Linked DNA regions of Homo sapiens: region 1 is linked to region 2. A link means that fine-mapping ties the variant in region 2 to the plasma level of a protein whose gene starts in the linked region. Region 2 holds a variant in brackets. A gene starts in the other region. All regions are shown on their forward strands.

Region 1 (14,347 bases), not on the chromosome of region 2:
ATCTCCCAATCTGAAAACCATGCAATCCACTAACATAATAAAGAAATGCTTTTATAAAAAGTATGTGAATTTTGAAACCAGGATTCCATTTTCCTAATTGGTTCTCACATAAGGAAAAATGTATCACCACATTAGCAGTTTAATAGTGGCTGTCTAGTGGCCTTGACAAAGTCAAGTCAACTTCTGCTCTCTAGGCCTCAATCTGCACATCAGTGAGGATAAGTTCCTGGGGTCTTTCCAACTCTAACATTCCTCATACCACACATGTTGCTGAGTTCTAGCCTGTGCAAGTTATCCTTGAGCCACAGGTAAAATATAGAAAGTACACAGATTTTGGAGGCTTGTCATCTATGCAACATTTTCAAGAGTCCTTGGTCTGCATCACATGACAGTCCCCATCTTCAGAAAATGTAAGGCTATGCACAGCAATGACACTTAAAAGAGTAACCAGTTCTAGGAAACCTATCCATTTGCCTGGTACCTGCTCACTTGGTAACATAATCTTTATCAAGAGTAAAACGTGGTACTCTGATTGGCACAACCATCACTACCAATACATGAACAAGCTATCTTCCTATTTAAGAAGTCAAGTAGTGTGCAAGCTCCAAGACCAAAAAGATATCTTAAAAGATGGCCTGTTGTTAGAGTTAACAGCATAGTCTTTCTTTAATAAGATACTAACTACCTCCAGAACCTTTCAACAGATACTCATCGGGCACACTCTGCCATACCTGTCTCAGGTGCTGGAGTTCCTACAGGAAGCGATTCAAACAAGGTCCACGCTCTCAACAACTTAGATTTTATGGTGGGGGTGAGGGATGTTGGTAGATAATAAATTAATTAATTAATAAACAAGAATATCAAGGAGTATTAAGTACTACATAATTAATTAATTAACCTTGACAAGACAGTGAGGGGTGGTTAATTTAGACTTAGTGGTCAGAAAAAAGACCTCTCTGAGGAAGTGAATCATTTAATCTAGATGAAGGGAAGGTGTTATCCATGCAAGAGCAGCTGGTTAGTGTTAGCCAGAGAGGCAGGGGCAAATGACTGGAAGTTGCAATTGTATGCTGAGTGTGCCATGTCCACCATCTCATCACTCCCCCAGCCATAACCCTTGAGGAGCTAAAGCCAAAAGAGCTGCAGGAAGGGAGCTTGAAAGAAGCCATACCCCTTCTTACTCCAGGTCCTTCAAGTCATGGGTCAGGCCTGAGCTGCCAAGCAGAGAGGAAAAAAGATAGAAATTTTAACCCCAATATGAACTAAAATTGTCCACAGCTAAAAGTGTCAAAATGCTTAACAATCAGTACGGCAGGAACACTGATCGATCAGGACAGAGGCCAGCAGGGTTGCAGAAGTATCTCAGAGGCCTTAAGCAGTACCAGGCATTGGAATTTCTGCTTCATCACGTGTTGGTCCATTTGTCTTAGAGGAGTTGCACTAGTCTCTTCCCAACTCATTGGAAATATTTCAACATTTCAACATTTTGGTAATCAGTATGGAACTAACACTGGTGCATACTAAATGATTATCAAATATTAGATGTCTCCTTAGGAGATTTAAAAAATGGGAGATTTGAAAAATAAAATCATAGTTGGAGGCAGTGGTGGTGAAAAATAATACAACATACAGATTGTTTACAACTGATCTTACCCAAAAGATCAAGAAGCAACAGAGATTGCTTAATAAATGAGTTATATAGAGATTACATAGAGTTACACAGAGTTATATATTCTGATTACGTATAATGCTTCCAAATTAGAAACATGAAAATCAGAGTAAGTAAATGAAGGGACTTTATGACTTCTACCATTTTGGTTGATACAAACAGAAACCTACGGGGAAAATATCATCAGTCTTGGAAACTTTTTTTTTTTACTATGAAATTTATGAATGTCTTAATTTGTTATTACTTATTCAACATATCACTTTATCATTAGAATTTTGTTTCCACAAAGGGTGCAAAAGTTTATAGATAAAACTTAGAACCTTATCAGTCTAAAGCTTGAAAAAAACATGAAGTGGAAGCTAATATACAGAAGATATTTAAGAAATAAGTTTCAGGAAGGGTGAAATACAAGTAGACAAAGCTAAGGCTTCCGTGCCTGAGACAGAACTAGAGGTCGTAGAAGAGATGGCAGCACTGAGGGAAGTTTAATGTCCAATCCCATCCTCTATTTACAACTATTTAACAAACGATATATTAGTCCCTGAGGCTTCCTACAAACCTCTGTACTTTCTAAACACCTTTCAGTGGTAAAAGCAAAGTATATCATCCATCCAATATCTATGATTAAAATTGATATGGAAGAAAAATTACCACATAATAGAGCTTTTTAATCACCTACTGTGAAAAGACAAAATTCATCATTACATAATGGCACTGTACTTGTTCAACTTCCTCAACTATTTCAAACAGCAGAGAACCAGGAGGAAGTTTTTTCTTTTTTTTTTTTTTTGTAAAAAAGCCTTTAAACAACAAAAATAAATGTCAAAAAGGTCACGCAATAAAACTTACAGGGAAACTTACAGGAAAGTCCCTTTAGTCTGCAGTTAGAGCCTATTTACTCTTGGACACTGTTCTAAATATTGTGGTTATCTGTTTTTGATAAAACAGAGATTTGAAGCTGCCACCTAAAAATGATGGCGAGGGGACTGGGCACCTTTTTTAATTTTCCATTTTTAATTTAAATTTTGTTAGATACAGGAGCATTGACAGTAGGAAGAGAAAGCTGGCACTGATAAAAAGAGATGGAAAATCCATAAACACAAGATACCGGCAAAAGGGCACGACCAGCAGACCAAAGTAAATTGCCCCACATGCCACAAAAGCCCTTGAGAAAAAGAACACATACAATAACTGATGTTAATAAGACCAACCGTAGCGAAGAGCGGCATATTCCAAATCAAAATTCAGAATGGCTAAAGAAAATGAGAAAAAAATGATACGCATGCTCTTAATCTATGAGTAAACTAAAAATCACTCACCAACAACACAGGTAGAAGAGGCATTCCTCCACCAACAACTTTGTCATTGACATCTCTTTGTGCTGTATGCAACAGACAAAGTAGGTTTTGTTTTGTTCCTGGGTGTATGATTCTTTCTGCTACAACTCAGAAGCACCGTCCCAGAACTTAATCATTCCACAATAGGCATTCTCATCTAAAACCAGTGTGCACAAAATATGAGTATTTTTCACCATGGTCATACAACAAGTATACAGGCCAGACACCCTCCAAGCAAGTCAATGTTATCTTTTAATCTCTTTCCTCAAGTTAAATCTGAAGACTCTTGTTTTCATAAGTGAGACAGGGTCAGAAGTAAGGTTAAAAATTAAGTATAGTATATGAAGTCAACTTATAATATTAGAGGATAAAACTTTGTACAGTAAAAGTGGCAAGAATTGCAATCCAATGGTAGGTCAAAAACCAGATACCTAACAATAGTGTAAATGACACTAACCCTTCAAAGCTAATTCTGAACCATGTCCACATGATCCAGTCTAAATCCATGTATGCAGCATTGGCTACAGCAATCAATTTCCAATTCTACCTCCTCTTGAAATACCAAGTTAATATTAAAACTGAGCAGCCCGAGGTACCTGATTGAGTAATCACCATTAGGGACTTTAGAATACTCAAGAAAAGAGAGTATCATGAGGAGGGGTCCTTGGAGACAAGAATGAGCTGCTACAGTCATAATATATCAATTTGGACATTTCAGAGTTAGAGAAGACCTGTCACAAAACGATGCAATGCACAAACTGGGCCAATGGGATCTTCTACGTGGTATCCTCAAGGAGGGTTCGTATTTACAGGACTGTACAACTGTCAAAATTGAGACAGCAACAGGGCAATCAAAATTCAATCATAATTCAGTATGTGGGCAAAAGATTACCCACATAATGGAAAATTTGAAAGACAAAAAGAAGAAGAAGTAGAAGTAGTAGTAGTAACGGTAATGGTAGTAGCTCTAACAAATCTGGTTACATTCCAGGGGAATCTTCTTCAGCACCCACCTGTTACCCTCAAATCTTGAAACATTTACGTATAAAAATCAACCTGAGCATGTGCAAGAAAATAGCTCTATATTGCCCCCTAGTGCTGGCCAGTGCCACTTCTCCTTGGGCTAAAAACTACAAGTAGTTCCTCTACTTCTAGTTACTTCCTGCTGCCATCCTTAACATAGACCAACCCCCAAACATAGCCTAATCCTCTACCCACAGATTAGGAAACAAGCAGCAATTTTTAGCATCATGCATCTTAGGAATGGAAATGGCCCAGCCTCAGATGGCAACAGAATGTGTGTGGCCTGGCTTAATGAACTCATCTCTCCTGGAGGTGTGAATCTACTTGGGTAAAGTGGCCTATGACCACATGCTGCATGACAGCTCTGGGACCCTTACAAAGTGATGATAGCATGGGGATCACAAGAGAGAACTAAAAGGAAAGGACAAAGAGAAGCACAGGTCAGCAAAGAGATTCGGGCAGATGCCAAGAGAGGCTTGATAAGACAAGGCAATAGGAGAAATGATATGGGACAGGAACAATAAAAAACAGAAGCCAGGAAGCCAGGAATATTGTGCATTGTTGTCATTATGGAGGAGCTTGGCTAGTAAGAAGCAATATTTTGAACTGGACATTTATTTTACATGAGAAAGAACAAAGGTTGGTCTGATGTGTTTCCTGCACGGGTACAGCTGGTGCTGTGGCTCCTTTGATCACTTTCCCCCAGACCTCTGCAGCTACTGTGATTAGAGATACATCCCTAGGCTGCCCTTTGATCAGCAGCTCAAGGAGCCTGCAGGTGCCATGTGGCATCACATTAGCAAGTTGTAAGAAGCACCACACTAATATTAGCTGATAAATGTGATACTATGTCTTGCTGCGCAACAGCAAATACAAATAACGTTTGCAAAAGTCGGCAGAATCCTTATTTTATCTACTTTTATACCCTAAAACTTTCTGTGCTTTCTTAAACATGAACACTTCATAGAGTTTAAATTCAAAGTTGAAGTCTTGAAACACCCCAATATGAAAAGGAAAAAAAATCACTCTGACTTAAAACTATAGCACATCCTATCTTAATTTTGTAGGTATGCCACTTGTGTTCATTTTGCATGGTTAATCAAGTGACAGAATCCTTGCATTCTGAATAGATGATATACAAAGCAGTAAAAACATGTATATTCCTTTTCAAATTACAGTAAGAGCCACCATTTGTAAACAGGGCGTTAAATATTCCAATTTTAGACAGCCTAACATGAACATTGTGGTTTCATGTGCAGTATAAAATTTCTATTTACAAAGTATTCTCAAAAATGACTTCATAATGGTAGATGAAGAGAAAAAGAGTTTAGAAATTGAATGATGTAAATCATATGGGTTCAGAGGCTAAGCAAATTACACACCCTGAAGCTGCCCTGGCTTTATGAAAGGAGCCTTTCTCCAGCTCTGTGCAATCCCAGCCCAAGGGAACTTGCATCTGAGAGTTTTCTAAACATTTCAGGTACACTTGAAAGCTGAAAGTAATTCTCATTTCCTATGCAGGATTAAGTCGTTTCCAGCACACACAAAATAGCAGTCATTCACCAACACATACAAAAACACACCACCAGAAAGGTAAGGACTTCAGAGTACAAAGGCAAGTTTAAAAAACAAAAACTAGGGAGCAAGAGAAATACACTTTTTAATTCCTCTAAAAACGACCACACAGCCTCTTGACCTCTATATTTCCTATCTACTCATTGATTAATTGATGACTTCGACCTAGAGTGCTTCAATTAATGCGGCTGATATATTTCCTGACCGACCCCCCTCGCCCTCCCCAAATCTGAGTAAAGTCAAACATGCCAAGGCTCATTCATTTTGGATTCGTTTTTAGAGGCAGTTCTTGAACTTCTAACTTTAGCAATGAGCGAACCTGCAATGTGCATTTGAAATGACGTTCACAATCGCTCCCAGAATGTCCTCACTCAGCAGTGGCACTCACGTTGCCCTCTTGGAGCTTTGTGGCAGCTCCCGAAGTTGCAAACTACACTTAACCTTTAACAGTCCATGCCAATGAACGCAGCGCACATTTGCATGTAATGAGAGACCAAAGATACCTTCACAGTCTGGTATATATCACATACCAACGCACAATGCCAACGTTAACACACACAGCGAGAAACAAGCAGGGGGAGAATGGGGGAAAGACTCACCGTTCTGTTCCTTGTTGCTGGAAAACTGGAATTTACTACTCAGGTTGGATTCCGCCTGAGTCCCCTGTCTCTGGCCGGCCAGGGCAGATGTCAGCAGGAGAAGCCCGAAGAGGCTCATTTGGCTGACTGGGGTGAGAGCTCACTCACGGCGGGCACTTTGGAAGCAGCGACTCCCGAGTCTCTTTCACCACCGCCAGGGGAAGGCTGCACTGGGGTGGAAGCGCCGAGCCTGCTCTGGCAGCAGAGAATCGCAGGGTAGTTTCCACATAATCCCATCCAAAACTTTTTCCTAGAGCCCTCTTCTGTGTCTCCAGTTTTTGAAAAGGATCAAAGCAAAACCTGGACCTGAACCAGTTTCCCAAGGTTTAAACAAATCCTGAGCTGTGGCGAAGTGGTGGGGGTGGGGGTGAAGGCGAGGGAGGAATGAGGGGGTGGGGACGCGGGGGAGCGGCGAGAAGTCCCCAGCAAGTTGCTGGGAGCACCTGTCAGTTCGGGGGACAGGACAGAGGCGAAAACTCAAGGGTTGCCCGCAGCCAGACTGGAAGCCAAGTCGGCGGCGAGCAGTTTCTGATCAATAACAAAGCTGCCAATAGATGCGGCTCTCCGGGCGCCCCTCTCCCCCGCCCCACCCCCCACCCCCGAAGGGGGAGGGGGAAGAAACAAGGCGAGGGCGCCGCGGCGGGTCCCACGGGCCGGGGCGCCGGAGCGGGGCCGGGGGGCTCCGGGCCGACGGCGGCCCGGGCGCAGGCGGAGAGAGGCCGCGGGGCTCCCGCTCCTCAGCCCGGAGCGCAGTTGGCCCCGGGTTCGGAGCGCCGCAGCACGGATTCCGGCACCTGGCTTGAGTTTTCCGCGACCAAAGTTCACCTTGTTCGGGCTCGTCCCCCGCTCCTCAAAGCCTGGGGCAATTCGGCCGCTCGGGGTCACCGCGGGGCTCCGGTTGTTCCCCGTCCCCTCCCCCCACGCCTCGGGCTCCGCGCTAACCTCGGGGCTACGCGCGGCGTCTCCGCACGGGGTGAAGAGGGAAGGCCGGGGCGGCCGGGAGGATCCGGCTTGTCCCCTCCCCTTCTCTACCTTCCCCCCGCCGGGCGGCAGACAGGAGGTGGGGGCCGTGGGCCGAGCCCGGGCGGAGCGCGCGCCTGGCGAGCGGGGGCGGCTCAGCGGCTCTCCCGCAGGCGGCCGATGGGGCGGGCGGGGGTCAGCGCCTCTGGGAGGGGCAGCCCTGGGACGCGTCCGCGCGAGCGGGCTTGGCCGCCCACTGGCTGTCAACAGGTGCTGCGCAGACAGGGGGTGCTGCGGGACTCGCTGTGGGCAAGACCCCGGTGGCCCAGGAGAGGAACGCGGCCAAGGCGGCCCCTGCTTTCCCTTCCACGGAACACCTCTAACCCCAAATACAGAGCACGATGGGTGGTGAAGGGTGCTGCAGAAGTAAGTGGGAAAGAACTTCCTGCAGCTCTCCTTCTCCCGCCCCCTGTCGCCTGACTTGTCATTAGTTTCCAGGAGGGCTCCCCACTCCCTAAGGTCTTTGCTAGGACCCTTGGCCAGAGTTTCAGAACAGAAGGAAGAAGGGAAATGAATTCAAAGGCTTTCCTCCAATTTCCAGCTCCGTAAAGCAGGACAAATAAAGCAAAAGTAAAGGCAGCCAAAATAACATCCATTTAACAAGTACTATATTTACTGAATGCCTACTATGTCGGGCACTGTTTAGAGGTTGGAGCCGTAGCAGTGAAAACAGACAAAAGTCCCTGCCCTCGTGAAGCATACGTAGTAGTTGGGCAGCATTAAGCTAATAGCAAGCTCTTCTGAGAATGGTGTCTAAGGGACTCAGAATGATCCTGCAACCTTGGACTTTCCTACAATACAGCCTCTAACAAAACTAGGCTGCCCTGAACCCCTGGTGATAGAATTGTTTACATTTACACCAAAAAGGTCGAGAAAGAACTGAAATCTCTTGTGGCTTGTGTTCAGGCTGACTTGGAGAGAGAGGCCGATGCTTTAAGACCTAAAGTTCTCATGAGGTAGTCTGAAATGAAACACACATGCCAAGCAGGGCTTATGGTGGTTCCATGTCTGCTAAATATGTCTGTGACAGGATCCAACGTGCTTTCTTTGTGGAGAAGCAGAAAATCATTGTCAATGTGTTAAAGGCACAAGCAGAGAGTCAGAAAAGTTGAATTTTAAAATGAAGCTATTTTTGAGTAATAATCAAAATGAAAACAAGGAAGTGCCATGGCAGGCAAATCAGCAATATCACCCAACTTCTTGTGGAAAAAAAGTCAATGCAAACAATTCGACCATCAAGAACACTTGGGCTGGAACAGAAAACCAAAATAGCAATGTCCCTGAAACTAAGGAGTGGCATTTGGGCAAGAACATATTCTTACTGGACCAAACCAGGGGCTGATCCTTCTTCAGTGGTGAGGAAAATGCCAAGCCCTCTTCTTATATGCGAACACCAACTGGGGCCAACCAACCAGACCTTTCTGCTTGGAATATCCTAGTCTTCTTGTTTTTCCCTTTTAGAAACCTTTGAAAACTTCACCCATCTGTCTCATTCTTGAAAATTTCACCCGCCTGTCTCATTCATTCATTCTTATCCCTTTACCACTTCTATCTACAGAGTACTAAATATACACTAAAGGCAAATAAGGCCTGATCTTTGACTTTAAGGCATTTACAGTTTAGTGGACAGAAGGTTTTTTATCAAGTATGGTATTTTATTCGAGTTAGCAGCTCCACAACACCAGTGTGACTCCATATTTGCATAATGTGTTCCAAAAATATTTTGTAAATTTGTGAGGGTGAAGGGTTATTCCCAATTTTAATAACATAATGGGACTTAAATAAAGGGCATGCCTTATGAATCCATTGTAATCTATTTTTCATAAAATTCATTATTCTCCAGTTTTTCTAATTTTGTAAGTTTAGTTTTCTAATCAGCACTTTTCTAAATGAAATTGTTATATGTCCATATAGTTGAGTTTCCTGACCACCCACATAGAGGTGGGGTGTGTGTGTGTGTGTGTGTGTGTGTGTGTGTGTGTGTGTCTGCAAATGTAATCCATTTGCTCTCAGGAGATTGGAAGGGTGATGACTACTCTTTATTTTGTATCATTTCATATTGGCTAGAATATTGCTTGGCACAGGGGGATAATAAATAAACACTCTTGACTGACTGACAGGTTTCTTTATTGGAGTCACTTACATTCTCCCTGGAATTTCAGTGCGATAGTTGTATTTGAAAAGTTACAGATGATCTAGAATAATACTCTACCTCTGCGTTTCACCTCATCCATATTCTACAGATTGATTTGACAATCGCCTTATAAATAAAGTCAGCCAGGTGTTCCTGAATGACCCCTAGACAAAATCACATCCACATTGGCCAATTTCCTTTCAATGTACTTGCATTGTCATTTCTTGAACTGCTCTTGCCCTTGACGTAGTTGATTCTTTTAACACATTATCCTCTGCCTGTCTTCCTGCTCTATTTTGCTTGTTAACCTTTTCTAGAAAAATGAAATCTTTGCATTGAAAGTAAATTTTATATAATCCAGAGTCTGTGCAATTACTAAACAATATATTTTAAATGAATATGGCTTTGTTTTGGCCAAAGGCATTTTCCTTGATGAAAGGCATCTGTTCCGCCAACCAAGAGAAAATAATTTCAGACATTCTTTGTGGTTTTCATGTTTTCTTAAACCTTAAGAAGGAGTGCCCATTGCTGCTGCATGCATGAAGAGTATTACCACAAATTCTTACTAAAGAATACACTTGGTGGTTAACAATGATAATTTGGGGGAGGGGGTGTCACTACTAAATGTTTTTAAGTGAAATAAGATTTTAAAGCAACCTACTCCTTTAGCTAGCCACTTAACACTCAAAGGGGCGGGAACCATGGGGACATATTTTTGCCACCAAAAAAAAAAATCTACGTTTTCTTGCTCTTTATTTTTCTGTTTTGATCCTAACACACACACACACGTGCATGCACACACACACAGAGGCATATGTGCAAAGTTATTTTAAGACTTTTCCTGGAACATTTCAGTATTTTAGTGGCAGATAATTGAGCATGATTTCCTGAAGTTCAGAAAGCTTTCTTCTACCTAAATACTCATTGTGTATTGAGAATGGCTGACAAGTAACAAATATATATATATATATATATATATATATATATATATATATATATATATATATATATGGCAGGACTGGAGATATCATTAGTAGTCAAAGTAAACGTCCACAGACCACAGCAGGAATAAAGACTGTGTTAGGAAAAAAAGAAATAAATAAATAAATGAAGTCAGTAGTCTGTCTTAGAGTCATCCTCTTCTCTTTCCACTTTTCCCACTACCTCATCTTGAGAAATACGACCTTGCTATCTCTAGGTTATGAAGATATATATCAATACTCTGTTTTTCCAACCAAGAAATGAGACACTTTTCATTACATTTTATTCTTCTAGCATCAGGTAACTTTTACCTCCCCAGTGTATCAGCTGCTAATCTGAGAAGGGTTTACCTGCTGAGGCTGAGGGTAGAGGGTTTTGCTAAGGCTCTGCTCTAGAAGAAGACACACTTTGTCAGTCTGACTTTCCTGGGGAATGGATCTGGAGGATGGGGAGTTAAGAGAAGTGTGACCTGCAGAAATGGACTTTAGTTGGCTCTCTGTGGCCTTTTCCTTTGAAGTAAAGCTGCTATTTCCTTATTGAAATCTAAGATTTTCCAAAATCTTAGAAGTGTTTGTCTGACTCTGAACTCAGAGGGAGTAACTAGCCAGAAACAGCCGTAAAGAAAGAGAAGCCCTAGTAACCTTTGAACCACCACAACAAAAGATCATTTCACTGGGAGATGGGAGGTCAGGGGCTTAGTCTGGCTTTACCACTAATAAACAGTACAACCTTGATCTAGAAATCTTCTCTGCCCCTCAGTTTCCTTTTCCTTACATGAGGAATCGCCACTGGCTTCTGTCTTGATCCCCCTACTGCTTTAGAAATTCTCTGAGCTATTATAGATAATGATGGCAAGACTTTTTCATCTTCAGTGTGCTTCTGTGATAAAAAATTACTAGCACAAGTTTCCTAGCCTCATATCAGAGATGTCTTCGTGGCTGGCAAAAGAGATAATGAACAGGTTCTTCTTTCTAAACTTGCTCAACTAGAGCAGTACTATTGTATCTGTTATTGCCATAGTTTGAAAAACCAAGCTCTAATGGTAATCAAAAAGAAGAGGGGACAGAGTTTGGAAATCACTGGCTAGGGCAAGTATACAGGAATATCATGGAATTCAAGGAAACCAAATAAATCCCCAGGCCTTCAATAGGTGCAGGTATTCATATTTTACTTTTCAATATTTGGTTGTTATCATGCTAACAGCCTCGAAAGAGGCAAAGTGCAGTCCTAAGCGGAGTGTCAAGGTAAAAAGAAATAGCTATTGTACATAACTGAGTTGTAAACACTAAGGAAATAATATTGTTGTTAGCCAAGAACAGATGGTCAAACTCATACTGTTCTATTGAGTCACACTGGTGGAATGTGAAACAATCTGGAGAGCAAGGGGTATCCCCTAAGAACATGGACAGCAACACTATCTTTGTCCATATCTTAGAGTCAATAAGGTGTCATTTTTCTCTCTCTTGAAATCATTTGTAGGATATGAAGGCTGTTGTCCCCATTGTGACAAATCATAGTAAAGAGGTCAAGACACAGCTACAGACCCTCCTTTCTCAGATAGTGACCTTCTTATTTCAAAGGTCATGGGAGAAGGAGCCTTTCACTTTGTGATCATTGTTTCAAATGCAGTCCTTTCCTTGGCTACTAGCCTTTGTAAAAGAGGTGGATAGTCTCAGCCCACTACTTAACAGTGAACATCAAAAAGTATTGCTGGCTGGCTAGAAGAAAGGAAAATATGGCTTAACTAATCTAATATTAAAAGTATCCTCAACTGCTTTTGAAGTTCAAGATAGATCAACAGACCCCCCTTTCTATTATGATTATTACTATTTGCTTTCCTTATCATCTTTGCAGTAATAAATCTGCTTGTTTTCTTTTAAAGCAGACTTGCAACACTCTTAAGGGATCATTTTCTTTTCCCAAATTTTGTTTTTATCAGCACAATTTCCCTTTGTGTTTCCCTCATCCTCTGTACCACCTTCTCTTCTTTCTCATCATCTAAATCTTCTTTGAATTGTCCTACAAGAAATTAGGAGGACAAAAAGCCATGTTTTCCTCTTGCAGGCTACTCAAAAAGATTTATAGTTATACCAAGGCAAACCAAGGAAAATTAAAGTGAGGGGAGAATTACTTTTGCTTAAATTTATCTTTAAAAGCACCTACTATGTCCCAGGAACTGTAGATTCATTAAAATATATTAATATTTTCTCATTTAATCTTCCAGCTTCTCCTTTAAGGAAGGTCATAGGTTTCCCATTTTACGGCAGAGAAACTGAACCTTAAAGATGGCATTAATTTTCCCAGAGTGACAATATTAATGACAGGTAGAGTTAATATTTAACTCCAGGTCTTCTCCTTTTACTCCTTTTCAATTTGACACCTTTAAGCCCTGGACTTTGGACAAAAACATCTTACCTGAAGCTTTCTTACATTTCTCTTCTAAGTTTTCTTCACAATGACTGAATGTCTTCCCCTATGTTTAACCTGAGGTGTTCAAGAATACTACTACAACATTACACAGCTATCTGACTGGACAGCCTAAATAAAATGTTTGAGTCAAAATGAATATGGGTTACCCGAGGCAGTGATAGTGACTAAGGCCTCGGGCAGCTAGCCTTGGGGTTGAAGCCCACCCAAGGCGTGGGCTAGCGGGAGTATCCTGTTTATCCTGGCCAACGTTAGTCATCCGGCCAATGTCTAAGCCTAGACCATCTGTGGGCAGTTATTTCAAAGAATCTATCTCCTTGTCTTTGAGGACAAAGGGAGTGAATTATCATTCCTCTTTTTCTACTCATGATTGCTACTGAATTGAAGCATCATGGCTAGGAAGAAATATGCTGTTTTCCCAGTTACTCCCTTTGAAGAATCAATTTGTGATTAGCTATAGATGTCAGAATCTAGACCTTTCTTATATATGTAATTCCTATAGACATCCTTCCACATGTTTCTAATTTAAAATACTTAGTCCAAGAGTTTTTTAAGTGGCATGGTGAGGCAAATTTGCATCCCTATTGATAATTTTACAAAGGTATTTTAGATTAGTTGGAGTTATTCAAAGCACAAAGACTGCTGCATGAAGGGACTAGTGACTTGTTAAGCCCTCAGGCAAGCAAAAGTCTTCAATTGAAATTCTAATTCCATAGATACATTCCATTTGTATTTGAAGGGGTATACCATATGAAAAGACCCTATGGTGCCATTTTTGTCCCACTGGACAGCAAGTGGAAAAAATTCTTTACATTTATTTCCTTCATAAATGGCTTTTAAAACACACGTAAAACTAAATAGAAAAATGTGGACACAGCTAATTGCCATAGCTCCTATTATTTATTTTTATTGAGGTAAATTATTATGTACTATGCGTCAGTAAAAACAGTACTTTAGGAAGTCAATGCACTTCGTAATATTCTTTCTTTCTGTCTATCTGGATTTCCATCAGAAGATTATTATCACTGTATACACCCACATCCAGCATGCCTAACTTGCTAACGGGAAGAAATTTCTCATTTTTCAGAATCTATTTAGTCTGGTATACAAATTAACTATTGCCTGGTCTGGGAATACAGTAGCCTGCCTACTTTCATTTAATATCTTATAGATCCATCACATTTTTAACTCCTTTTACTGAAATGTTCACAATGAACTACTCTAGAAAGGGAATCCTGTACTGCATATTAAACAATTGATAAATTAACTACAAAAACTCTGAGTAGATATTAATAGAATTTCCCATTTTTAACATGAAAAACTGAGCCACAGAGAGGTTTTTGGGCTTACCCAAGGTCACACAGTTCATAAGTATAGAAGCCTGACTTAGAGTTCAGATAACTGGTTTTAGAACTGGCACTTTAAAGTATCATGTTTGCATTGCCTCATGTCATCTAGCAAGTGATAAATATACCGTGTCTTAAAAAACACATTTCAAACTTATTAAGTATACATTTATATTAAGCATTTGGTGTTTATTTTA
Region 2 (5,167 bases):
CATTTAGCATCCCGAGCCTCCTCTCTGGGCCTCATTTTCCTCATCTGTAAAACGGAGAAAGGCCCTGACAGCCACGGTCTGTGTGAGGCTCCTGAGATCTCATGTACAGAAAGTGCTTGGCGTGGAGCTGGGCATGCAGCAGGGGCTGGGCACACGGTGGCCCAAAGGAGCCCTGGGCCTTCACTGATGGGCTGTGTGGCCACTGACACACCTAGGCCTCCTCACCTGTAAGACAGACACCATTGTGCCATCCCATGTTCTCACCCAGAGGCTCCTTTTCTCTTCCAGTGGGAGGCCAAGAGCATTTCGCTCACTTGCTGATCCTCAGGGACACCAAGACCTACATGCTTGCTTTTGACGTGAACGATGAGAAGAACTGGGGGCTGTCTGTCTATGGTAGGCATGCTTAGCAGCCCCAAACTCATGCCCCTCTCAGGCCTCACCCCCCATTCACCCACCCCTGGGCTGGCCCCTAGAACCCCAGCCCTCCCTGGCCTCCCGCCGGGCCCCACCATGTCCCCAGTCAGTCTCCTTGCTCCCCCTGCAGCTGACAAGCCAGAGACGACCAAGGAGCAACTGGGAGAGTTCTACGAAGCTCTCGACTGCTTGCGCATTCCCAAGTCAGATGTCGTGTACACCGATTGGAAAAAGGTAAACGCAAGGGATTGGACAGTGCCCACCTTGTCCATGGCCCAACTTGGGCAGCCCCAGAGGCCCAGAGCAGGAGAGCTGCCAGGCAAGGCTGCACAGCTAGGCAGATCTTCTGCTTTTAGGCACCTGCCTCACTGTAGGGACAGCTGAGCTCTACAGAGGCCCAGGGGTGGTGGATGAGAGCCCAGGAGGGAGAAGTCCCTGTGAAACCAGGGAGGACCTGAAAGCTAACAGGAGGGAACAGCGTGAGCCACGGGGTTGGGGGATTGGCAATTGGAGGGGACGTAATGCGGGGAGTTACCACCTACAGACGCGTCCCAAACCCCAGGCTTTCACCCCACCTCCACTCCCCACTCATTTTTAATACCCGTGCAGTGGGGAATTGATACTGTGGTTTTCAATGTCACCCACACTGCAGCACGGCCACAGTCACCATCCCGATTTTTGCTACAAATGAAAATTACTTTATAATGAGCTCCTTAACACTTTTCTTTAAACCTGTGTTTGGAAGACTTGCGTTGGTGTGGCCCTGTGCCCAATACCTGTGAAATCACAGCACCGATGAGCTGGTTCCAATTTTTAAAATATATACATGCAGTACTTCCATGACTATTCAAAGAAAAACAATTCCTTCCATTTGCCATCTGAGATGACCACCAGTGGTGTGAACTACCTCCTGCCCCCATCTGCAGTCCCAGGATCCTGGGACAGGGCTTATGAACACAACCACTGTAGTCAGCTCACCTGATCCACAGCCTGGCACCCCCACTGTCTGGCTAGGGAGCCTCGAATGGGTCCCAAGGCCACCCTGCTCCTCAGTTACATCATCTGCATAGTAGTGGTGGTTGTGAGGAATTCAGGAGCTGCAGCATAAGGGCTCGGCAGGTCCTAAGTGCACAGTAAATGCCAGTGATTCTTAAGAGTCTGAGCTCCCATTGTAGAGGCAAGTAAGCTGAGGTTCAGAGACAGAAAATGACTTGCCCAAGATCACCCAGCTGGGAAGTGACAGTGCCAGGGTTGGAGCCCTGGTTGAGCTGGTTCCACAGGCCAGAGCTCATTCTGCCCTCTCCCTGGAAGACCTCCCACCCTGTCCCCATGCCTCTGCTTCTCCCTCACCCCAATTCCCCGCTGCCTTCTAGGATAAGTGTGAGCCACTGGAGAAGCAGCACGAGAAGGAGAGGAAACAGGAGGAGGGGGAATCCTAGCAGGACACAGCCTTGGATCAGGACAGAGACTTGGGGGCCATCCTGCCCCTCCAACCCGACATGTGTACCTCAGCTTTTTCCCTCACTTGCATCAATAAAGCTTCTGTGTTTGGAACAGCTAAGCTGTTAGTCATTTGTTCATTCATTCATTCTGAAGCCTGCCCTGAGTTCAACCCTGGCTGGGCACTGGATAAGACGCTGTCCCTGGTGGGAAGAGCCCCACACGTGCCAGGATGGAGGATGACAGGCACCGAGTGCTGTGGGAGCCCAGCACTGTGGGAAGACATTTTCTTCTGCAGGGCGAAAATCTGGGAAGGCTTCCTAGAAGGGGCATCTGAACCAATCTAGAAAGATGAGGAGCATAATACAACCTGCTGTTCTGTGTACAATGTGTGATGATCAAATCGGGGTCATTTCCACCACCTCAAACATTTACCATTTCTTTGTGTTGGGAACATTATCACACAGTTCCCCATAAATATGTACATTATGTGTCCATTTAAAACAATACAAGCAAACAAATGTGAATTTCTAAACTGAGACTACTGTAAGGCCTTTCTCCTAATAGCAAGATTGTAATAAAACTTCAACTAGTCATAAAAAAAAATCCTTTTCTGTTTCTGCTGCAAGCAAGGAAATGAGAGGATGCATTTGAGTAACCTTGAGGCAGAAGACCCTAAACAGGAGTGGAGGTGTGATATTGTTTGGCTCTGTCCCCACCCGAATCTCACATGGAATTTTCAGCCCCATGTGTTGGAGGCGGGTCCTGCTGGGAGGTGATTGTATCACGGGGCTGGTTTCTAATGGTTTAGCCCCACCTCCCAGGTGCTGTTTCTCACAAGGTCTCATTGTTTAAAAGTGTGTAGCACCTCCCCCTTCGCTCTGTCTCTCCTGCTGTCTTGTGAAGAAGGGACTTGCTTCCTCTTTGCCTTCCACCATGATTGTAAGTTTCCTGAGGCCTCCCAGCCATGCTTCCTCTGAAGCCTGCGGAACTGTGAGTCAATTAAACCTCTTTTTTTCATAAACTACCCAGTCTCAGGTAGTTCTTTATAGCAATGTGAGAACAGACAAATACAAGGTGGATGGGGTGGGGAGAGTTCAGGCATGTGGTGCCTATCACAAGGACCTTATTCCAGTATTACCATGGCCATCGGGGGAGGCACGTTGTGGGGACCAGGCTGGAGGCAGGAAGGCCTGAGTGAAGGCTGCTGTGGGCAACTAGGCAAGAGGCGGTTGCCTGGGCCAGGACAGGGCAGGGCAGGGAAGGGCTGGGGTGATGCAGAGGGCTTGGGGCCCAGGCCAGAGGGGCTGGGTGTCTCCATGGACGTGTCCTCAGGGTGCTCACCTGGGAGACCCAGAAGAAGGAGACAACACGTAAGGGTGAGGCTGGTCCCTGGAAATCAGTTGACATCTTGCAAATGTGGAGCCCTGAGGTGGAGCCAAGCCCGAGGCACAGCCCACTCAGTGGCACAAGCCACGAAGGGCCGGCCTCACCCAGACCTGGGGGCTCATGATTGACAGCCTCTTGTTACGTGAGGGAAGCAGCACTCCTCCCGTGGCAGAAAAGTTGGGCCTGAGTTGTTCCATCTATTCCGTATGTGCAGCTGCGTACACCATACAGGGTGATAAGACCATGAGCCTGAGGCTCTGACACCCCAGGGTCCAGTCCTGTGTCCTCAGGCACCACTCCCCTTTGTACCTCCTGTCCCAACAGCCAAGCTCCACAGGGCCAAGACTACAGCATCCTTTGCTCAGCACCCAAACCACTGCTGTGCCCACAGCACGGAGGCTGGGGACACCGAGCTGATGTCCTCAGAAGGCAAGTGGACAGGACAGCCTCTGGGGTCCCACAGTGGCCTGGAACTGAAGGCTCAGAACCTAAAAGAAGTTTCCCCATTTCAATGTTACTTTCAGTAAGACACCATTTTCAACCATACTGAGGAGGATCCGCTGAAAAATGAAACAGAAATGAGTCGTGATGGGCAGGGCAGGGAGAAGCAAGGGAGACGAGAAGTGGGGAACATGGAAGGAAAAGCCACGTGAGGAAGAAACCAGAGGTCAAGAGAAAAAGAATCATGGAGGTAGAGGAAGCAAAAAACACACATAACAAAGAATGTGGACTTTGGAGTCAAACTAATGTGAGTCCAAACCCAGGCTCTCTCCCAAACCAGTTTGGGCAGATGGCCCAGTGGAACCTCACTCTCCTCATCAGTAAAAAGGGGGCAGAGTGAGGGTCCTGAGAGCTAGTACAGGGACTGTGTGAAGTAGACAATGCCCAGTGTTTAGCGTAAGAATCAGGGTCCAGCTGGTGCTCCCTAAACAGCAGCTGCTGTTCACTGTTGAAAGGCGCTCTGGAAGGCCAGGCGCGGTGGCTCATGCTTGTAATCCCAGCACTGTGGGAGGCCGAGGTGGGCGGATCACCTGAGGTAGGGAGTTCGAGACCAGCCTGACCAACGTGGAGAAACCCCATCTCTCCTAAAAATACAAAATTAGCCAGGCGTGGTAGCACATACCTGTAATCCCAGCGACTCGGGAGGCTGAGGCAAGAGAATTGCTTGAAACCAGCAGGGGAGGTTGTGGTGAGCCAAGATCGAGCCATTGCACTCCAGCCTGGGCAACAAGAGCAAAATGGCGAAACTCCATCTCCGAGAAAAAAAAAAAAAAGAATACTTTCTGAAAGTATTTATTCATACAAATAAAGACTTGACCCATAAGGTAGGAACGCAAATGGGCCACGGAATCACTCATTCCACAGTATACACCGAGTGCCCTTGAAGTGCTGGGCACTGCTCCAGGATTGGGGGCATATTGGTGAAAGAGAAGCAAGCTGCCTGCTCAGATGGCAGGGAATGGGGAAAAAC[A/C]GGGAGACAGTTTCCTGTTTGAGATGTTGGGAGATGCTTCGAGTAGTATATTTACTGGAAATAGACATTCAACTTGGATGTCCCTTTTTGGAAATGTGCCTGCGTCCAGGGCTGGGTTGGGGCCCCAATGAACTTTGGCTCTGACATAGCTGTTGCCACACTCAGTGGAACTGAATCCATGTTTGCCTTCACCCGGCATCCTTCACCCCAACTCTCCCCGCCACAACATACATCCCATGCCAGCCTGGGGACCCTCAAAGGTGCTTCATCATTAGGTTTGTGGCTGGGTCCTACTGAAGTAAGTCTTGGCACTCAGAGGGATAGGAATTGAATGAAGACATGAGATTCCTCTGCGGGAGGCCTCTCTAGGAAATCTGTGGACTCACACGTTTACTAATGTTGCTGCAGCCCCGCACCCACCTTGGCCTTGGGCAGCCATACTCTAGGGCT

Which allele goes with the higher level. Positions count from the first base shown, and alleles are read on the strand shown. Strength reflects both the effect of a copy and how common the allele is.
For the plasma level of the protein whose gene starts at base 7,217 in region 1, allele A in region 2 goes with a higher level than allele C (weak association).

What was found. A credible set is the group of variants that fine-mapping cannot tell apart. PIP is the posterior inclusion probability: the model's chance that the variant is causal. The UK Biobank Pharma Proteomics Project read protein levels with antibody pairs (Olink). The fine-mapping took linkage between variants from a reference panel, not from the people measured, so its PIPs are less certain.
Region 1: PDGFC starts here. The variant in region 2 is the best candidate, but not a certain one, in a credible set for the plasma level of the PDGFC protein (UK Biobank, PIP 0.56).

What each region holds. Positions count from the first base shown.
Region 1 is chr4:156,964,583-156,978,929 of GRCh38, forward strand. PDGFC (platelet derived growth factor C) reads right to left here and starts at 7,217. Exons shown (of 6, transcript NM_016205.3): 1 at 6,204-7,217. The coding sequence starts at 6,321. RefSeq lists an enhancer at 7,004-7,504.
Region 2 is chr9:114,324,502-114,329,668 of GRCh38, forward strand. ORM1 (orosomucoid 1) reads left to right here. Exons shown (of 6, transcript NM_000607.4): 4 at 289-396; 5 at 548-651; 6 at 1,791-1,978. The coding sequence ends at 1,856. Among named protein-coding and RNA genes, the nearest start is that of ORM2, 2.8 kb to the right of the region's middle. The variant A/C (reference allele first, on the strand shown) is at 4,718.